2 linked regions of the Homo sapiens genome follow. The protein of the gene in region 2 interacts with the protein of the main gene of each other region in a biochemical or structural test. Each region holds a gene or a part of one and is shown on either strand. Other genes may lie near its edges.

The links.
Region 1: the proteins of DTL (region 2) and POLH form a complex in vitro, tested with the Homo sapiens proteins (one study listed by BioGRID).

What each region holds. Positions count from the first base shown.
Region 1 is NC_000006.12:43,582,427-43,586,245, forward strand, and holds part of POLH (DNA polymerase eta), read left to right. Parts: coding exon 1-30; intron 31-580; coding exon 581-715; intron 716-3,819. UniProt on the Homo sapiens protein: DNA polymerase specifically involved in the DNA repair by translesion synthesis (TLS). Due to low processivity on both damaged and normal DNA, cooperates with the heterotetrameric (REV3L, REV7, POLD2 and POLD3) POLZ complex for complete bypass of DNA lesions.
Region 2 is NC_000001.11:212,094,662-212,098,480, reverse strand, and holds part of DTL (denticleless protein homolog), read right to left. Parts: intron 1-3,819. UniProt on the Homo sapiens protein: Substrate-specific adapter of a DCX (DDB1-CUL4-X-box) E3 ubiquitin-protein ligase complex required for cell cycle control, DNA damage response and translesion DNA synthesis.

The sequences.
Region 1 (3,819 bases), on a different chromosome or scaffold from region 2:
TGTACAGTACAAATCATGGAAGGGTGGTGGGTATGTATCATTGTTATTGTCACAACTATTCAATGGTAACACAGTGGCACTGTGGCAGGTCCTTTGTTGTTGTGGTGGTGGTGGTGGTGGTGACAGGGCCTTTCTCTGTTGTCCCATCCAGAGCGCAGTGGCACCATCAGCTCACAGCAGCTTTGACCTGGGCTCAAGTGATCATCCCTCTTCAGTCTCCCAAATAGTTAGAACTACAGGAGCGCCCCACCATGCCAAGCTGATTTTATTTTTTGGGGGGTGGGTAGAGATGGGGATTGGTTGGGGGGGCAGGGCTCACTATATTGCCCAAGCAGGTCTTGAACTCCCGGCCTCAAGCAGTCCTTCTGCCTTGGCCTCCCAAAGTACAGGAATTGCCAGCATGAGCTGCTGTGCCTGGCCCTATTTTTGAGATTTCTGAACTGCTTTGTTTTGGATTGAATGATGGCATCTGTGGTCAAAAAGTTTCTAATATGTTTATAGATTACTTGTGTTAAATGTTACTTGTTTTTGCTTGTGATCATATAATATGTTTTCTGTTTCCTTTTTTTTCTAACCTTAGAATAATTGCAGTGAGTTATGAAGCTCGTGCATTTGGAGTCACTAGAAGTATGTGGGCAGATGATGCTAAGAAGTTATGTCCAGATCTTCTACTGGCACAAGTTCGTGAGTCCCGTGGGAAAGCTAACCTCACCAAGTAAGAAAAAAACATTATTTAAGGAGACATAAAGGAGTCGAAAATAATACTCCATGAGGCTAGGAACTGGTGTTTTGAATTTGTTCCATGTAAATAACACCGGAAAAAATTCTTTTTGGTTAGCCATCTTGTCTCTGTGAAATGAAAAACAGATTTTAATATTGTGTTTTGGGGACAGTTCAAAACCATTATACCATATAAGAGTTGCTGCCTTTGATATCTATTCAGTTCCTTAATTGTTCAAAATTGGTTGTTAAATTCAGACTTAATACCAATTCCCATGTTCTCCATCCAAAAATCTAAAGTATTTGAAAAATTGACTGTGAAACTGAGAATTTTTCCAGGAAAGGCTGAGTCAAACTGACATTGTAGTACAATATCAGGAATTAGTTGCTATAATTGAACAATATCAAGGGAGATTTCTCTGTTTTTAGATTAAGCTATCTCTCCGCAAATATTAGAAGTTTCACCTTGGAATGGGGGATATGAATCAGCATAGCTAAGTCAGAGGTAGGCACAAACCCCAGCCTTTAATCCTAACAGCTAATATGTATTAAACATATTATCACATGCCAGGCACAGTGTTAAGCTCTCTATAGGCAATATCTCTATTAAATCTGACATTGTTATAAGGTAGGTACTAATATTACTCCCCCTTCACAGATAAGGAATCAAGTTCAGAGAAGTTAAATAATTTAAGTTAGGCTGGGGATGGTGGCTCATGCCTGTAATCCTAGCATTTAGGGAGGCTGAGGCGGGCAGATCACTTGAGTCCAGGACACCAGCCTGGGCAACATAGGGACCAGCCTGGGCAACATGGGGAAACCCCATCTCTAACAGAAAATACAAAAATTAGCCAGGCATGGTGGCACACACTTGCAGTCCCGGCTACTCAGGAAGCTGAGTTGAGAGGATTGCTTGAGCCTGGGAGGCAGAGGTTGCAGTGGGCCCAGATCACACCACTGCACTCCGGTCTGGGTGACAGAGTGAGACCCTGTCTCAAGAAAGAGAAAAGTTCAGACAGCTAAGTGAAAGACTGAGGATTCACATCTGTTTTTTAAGATTCTAGTATCTATGTTCTCAAGGTACACTATACTATGTGTTGTGGTATAGGAATCATGCTTTGACTTAGGACCTGACATACTTCTGAATTCTAATTCTAATTCTATGAATTAGAAGTCTAAAGGTAGAGTGGCATACAGACCCACATTGGAATTATTGCTAGAAAAGAAGATAGACTTGACTGAAGATTAAGTTTTCCAAATACTCTTAAAAATACCTTGCAGTGATTTGCTCAAGAGGCTGTGAGGAAGCACTGAAATAGAGTATTGTTTTAGAAAAACTCAAACTATGGTTTTCCTCTCCTCTCACACCACAAGAACAATCAACACAGAAGACATCTGTGACCAAAGGTGTGGAAGTATTTCCCCACACACCAATCAGCAGACACCAGCTGCATGTCCTCGCACTCAATTCCAACACTGTCTACCTGGAGATGGCATCAGATTCCACATGTTGAGGGCTCAATACCACAAGAACACCCCCTCCTTCCTTTCCATCACAAGTCCAGGCCTTTAGAACGTCTGAACAGCTGGCTTTAAGTTGGGGTTCCTGCAACCCCCTCTTTGGATTTGATTAATTTGCTGAAGCGACTCACAGAACTCAGGAGAACACTTACTTATGTTTATTATAAGGGATATTACGAAGGATACAGATAGGTTGGGCATGGTGGCTCACGCCTGTAATCCTAGCACTTTGGGAGGCTGAGACAGGAGGATTGCTTGAGCTCAGAAGTTTGAGACCAGCCTGGGCAACATAGTAAGACCTCGTCTCTACCAAAATTAAAACAAAAACAAAAACAAAAAAATTTAGCTAGACATGGTGTTGTGCAGCTCTAGTTCCAGCTACTCAGGAAGCTGAGGTGGGAGGGTCGCTTGAGCCCAGGAGATTGTGGTTCCAGAGAGTCATGATCAAACCACTGCATGCAGCCTGGGCAACAGTGAGATCCTGTCAAAAAGAAGATGAAGATGAAGAGATATATAGAGCAAGGCATGTGAGAAGGGGTGCGGAGCTTTCATGCCCTCCCTGGGTGAGCCACCCTCCAGGAATCTCTACTATTACAGCTATTTGGAACCTCTCCGGACCCTGTCCTCTTGGGTTTTTAGGGAGGCTCCGTTATGTACTCATGACTGATTAAACCATTGGCTATGGGTAATCAACTTGACCTGCAGTATCTCTCTTCCTCTCCCCTCCCCAGAAGTTGAGGGGGTGGGGCCAAAAGTCCCAACCCTCTAATTATGCCGTGGTCTTTTTGGTGACCTGCCCTATCCTGAAGCTATTAGTTAACATTAGCATACAAAAAGACAAAACTTGGGTGATTCCAAGGATTTTTGGAGTTGTATGCCAGGAAACTGGGATGAAGACCGAATATATATTTCACAATATTATAAGTATCCTTTTCTGGCTGTGTGTATGAGTATATTGCTCTTTCTTTTCTTTTTTTTTTTTTTTTTGTGGGTGGGGGACGGAGTTTCACTCTTGTTGCCCAGGCTAGGGTGCAATGGTGCAATCTCGGCTCACCACAACCTCCATCTCTTGGATTCAAGTGATTCTCCTGCCTCAGCCTCCCGAGTAGCTGGGATTACAGTCATGTGCCACCGTGCTGGCTAATTTTATATTTTTAGTAGAAATGGGGTTTCTCCATGTTGGTCAGGCTGGTCTCGAACTCCTGACCTCAGGTGATCCACCCACCTCTGCCTCCCAAAGTGCTGGGATTACAGGTGTGAACTGCTGCGCCCGATCTTGCTCTTTATTTTCTTTGAGGCCTATCCTCTTCCTAGTTCAAATAATGATTTAAAAAAAAAAAAAGTCAAGTATTTCTCTAATTCTCTAATTTGAGAGTGTTTTAGAACAATAATTATATTAGTTTTTATGGGTGTCATGGTGAAGAGGTACCGATGTTTTCATTTTTATGGTAAATATAAAGTCAATAGGAACAAAGAACTGGACACTACAAAGCAGGTCCAAGCCAAAGGAAAGCAAATATCTGTATATTGGCCGGATGTGGTGGCTCACGCCGGTAATCCCAGCACTTGGGGAGGCCG
Region 2 (3,819 bases):
ACTCGTGGGGCCCTGCTCATTGCCTGAGAAGCCCGAAAACCTATCCAGGAAACCGTAAGGCAAGCTTATATCCCCCGCTATACTACTGCAGTTGATACTCTCTTGAAAGTGCCACCTCCTGGCTGGAGGCCAACCAATTCAAGCCATTACAGCAATTCAACAGAACAACCCTGCTCCAAGAAAGCAGAAAATAACAGCTAATTCTACTGCCTGTAACATCTTGGCCAACCAGAGAGGTCCTGAGTCTGTCCATGTAATAACTTCAGTGCTAGTATAACTAGCATTCAAGACAACCAGTACACTAAATAAAACTACAACCAAGTACTCTCACACAGTCCACTTCACTCCTTTCCTACCACCTCCATTAGAGCAGGTGCTAGTATCCATGGCATACAGACCTGAAGACAGATCACATCACAGGACTCTTAGCAGACACTCTCCAGTACCAGCCTAGAACCCAGTAGCTCTGCTGGGTGGCTCGACCCAGAAGAGCAATAACAATCACTGCAGTCCAGCTCTCAGAAAGCCCCACCCCTAGGGAAGGGGGAGAGCACCACACCAAGGGATCACTCTGTGGGACAAAAGAATTTAAACAGCACACATTGAGTCCCAGATCTTTCTTCTGACATAGTCCACCCAAACGAGAAGGAACCAGAAAAACAATTCAGGTAATATGACAAAACAAGGTTCTATAACCACCCCTAAAAGATTATACTAGCTTACCAGCAATGGATCCAAACCAATAATAAATCTTTGAATTGCCAGAAAAGAATTTAGAAGGTCAATTATTAAGCTACTCAAGGAAGCACCAGAGAAAGATGAAAACCAACTTAAATTTAAAAATAAAACAAAACAGGATGTAGACGAAAAAAATCTCCAGAGAAATAGATATCATAAATAAAAAACAATCATGACTTCTGGAAATGAAAGACACATTTAGAGAAATGCAAAATACACTGGAAAGTTTTAACAATAGAACCAAACAAGTAGAAGAAAGAATTTTGGAGCTCAAAGACAAGGCTCTTGAATTAACCCAATTCAACAAAGACAAAGGCAAAAGAATAAAAACTTCTCTGGCCTTGCTCGAGATCTAGACATCCAAATACAAGAAGCTCAAAGAACACCCAGGAAATTCATCACAAAAAGATCATCACCTAGACACACAGTCATCAGGCTATCTAAAGTCAAGATGAAGGAAAAAATCTTAAGAGCTGGGAGGCAAAAGCATCAGGTAACCTGTAAAGGAAAAACCTATCAGATTAACAGCAGATACTCTACAAGCTAGAGGGGATAAAGGTCTTATCTTTAGCCTTATTAAATAATTATTAGCTGACAAAATAATTATCAGCCAAGAATTTTGTATCCAGTGAAACTAAGCTTCATAAATGAAGAAAAGATGAAAGTCTTTTTCAAACGCTGAGAGAATTTGCCACTACCAAGCCAGCATAGTTTACAAAAACTGCTAAAAGGAGTTCTAAATCTTAGAGCAAAACCTTGAAATACACAAAAATAGAATCTCATCTCATAGTGGGGGACTTCAATACAGTAAGTCAACATAGAAACAATGGACTTATACCCTAGAACAAATGGACTTAACAGGTATTTACAGAACATTCTACCCAACAACTGCAGAATATACATTCTATTCATCAGAACATTCATGGAACATTCTCCAAGATAGAGACCATATGATAGGCCACAAAACAAGTCTCAATAAATTTAAGAAAATCAAAATTATATCAAGTACTCTCTCAGACCATAGTGGAATAAAATTGGAAGTCAACTCCAAAGGGAATTCTTAGAACCATGCAACATTAAATAATCCGCTCCTGAATGATCTTTGGGTCAATAATGAAATCAAAATCAAGCTGGAAATTAAAAAAATTCTTTGAACTGAATGAAAAAAGTGACACAACCTAACAAAACCTCTAAGATACAGCAAAAGCAGTGCTAAGAGGAAAGTTCACAGCATTAAGTGCCTACATCAAAAAGTCTGAAAGAGCACAAATTGACAATCTAAGGTCACACCTCAAGAACTAGAGAAATAAGAACAAACCAAACCCAAACCCAGGAGGAGGAAAGATATAACAAAGACCAGAGTAGAACTTAATAAAAATGAAACAACAACAACAAAATACAAAAGATAAATGAAACAAAAAGCTGGTTCTTTGAAAAGATAAACAAAATTGATAGCCCATTAGTGAGATTAACCAAGAAAAGAAGAGAGAAGATCCAAATAAGTTCAATTAGAAATGAAACAGGAAATATTAACAACGAATACCACAGAAATACAAAAGATCATTCAAGGCTACTATGAACACATTTGTGCTCACAAACTAGAAAACCTAGAGGAGATGGATAAATTCCTGGAAATATACAACCTCCTAGATTAAACCAGGAAGAAATAAGAACTCTGAACAGACCAATAACAAGCACTTAGATTGAAATGGTAATAAAAAAATTGCCAAGAAGAAAAAGTCCAGGACCAGATGGATTCACTGCTGAATTCTATCAGACATTCAAAGAAGAACTGGTACCAATCTTACTGAAACCATTCCAAAAGAGAAAGAGGGAATACTCCCTAAATCATCCTATGAAGCCAGTATCACTCTAATACCAAAACCAGGAAAGGACATGACAAAAAAGAAAACTACAGACCAATATCCCTGATGAACATAGATGCAAAAATCCTCAACAAAATACTAGCTAACCAAATCCAACAGTATATCAAAAAGATAATCTACCATGATCAAATGGATTTCAAACCAGGGATGCAGGGAAAGTTTAATATACACAAGTCAATACATGTGATACACCATATAAACAGAATTAAAAACAAAAATCAGGCCGGGTGCGGTGGCTCATGCCTGTAATCCCAGCACTTTGGGAGGCCGAGGAGGGCAGATCACTTGAGGTCAGGAGTTTGAGACCAGCCTGGCCAACATGGTGAAACCCCATCTAAAAATACAAAAATTAGCCAGATGTGGTATCTCAGCTACTTGGGAGGCTGAGGCAGGAGAATCCCTTGAACCTGGGTGGTGGAGGTTGCAGTGAGCTGAGATGGTACCACTGCACCCCAGCCTGGGCAACAAGAGCGAAACTCTAAGAGAAAAACAAACGAAAACACATGATCACTTCAATAGAAGCAGAAAAAACGTCTGACAAAATCCAGCATCCCTTTATGATGAAAACACTCAGCAAAATCAGCATAGAAGGAACATACTTGAAGGTAATAAAAGCCATCCATGACAAACCCACAGCCAACGTTATACTGAACGGGGAAAAGTTGAAAGCATTCCCCATGAGAACTGGAAAAAGACAAGGATGCCCACTTTCACCACTTCTATTCAACATAGTAGTGGAAGCCCTAGCCAGCCACAGTCAGTCAGAAAAGAGAAATTAAAAGGCATCCAAATTGGTAAAGAGGAAGTCAACCTGTCACTGTTAGTAAATGATATGATTGTATACCTAGAAAACCCTAAAAACTCATCCAAAAAGCTCCTAGATCTGATAAATGAATTCTGTTAGGTTTCAGGATACAAAATCAATGTACATAAATCAGTAGTACTGCTATACAGCAACAGCAAACAAGCTGCAAATCAAATCAACAACTCAACCCCTTTTACAATAGCTGCAAAACCTAGGAATATACCTAACTAAGGAAGTAAAAGACCTCTACAAGGAAAACTACAAAACACTGCTAAAAGAAATCAGATGACACAAACAAATGGAAAAACACAACCTACGCTCAAGGATGGGTAGAATCAATGCTGTGAAAATAACTATACTGCTAAAAGCAATCTACAAATTCAATGCAAT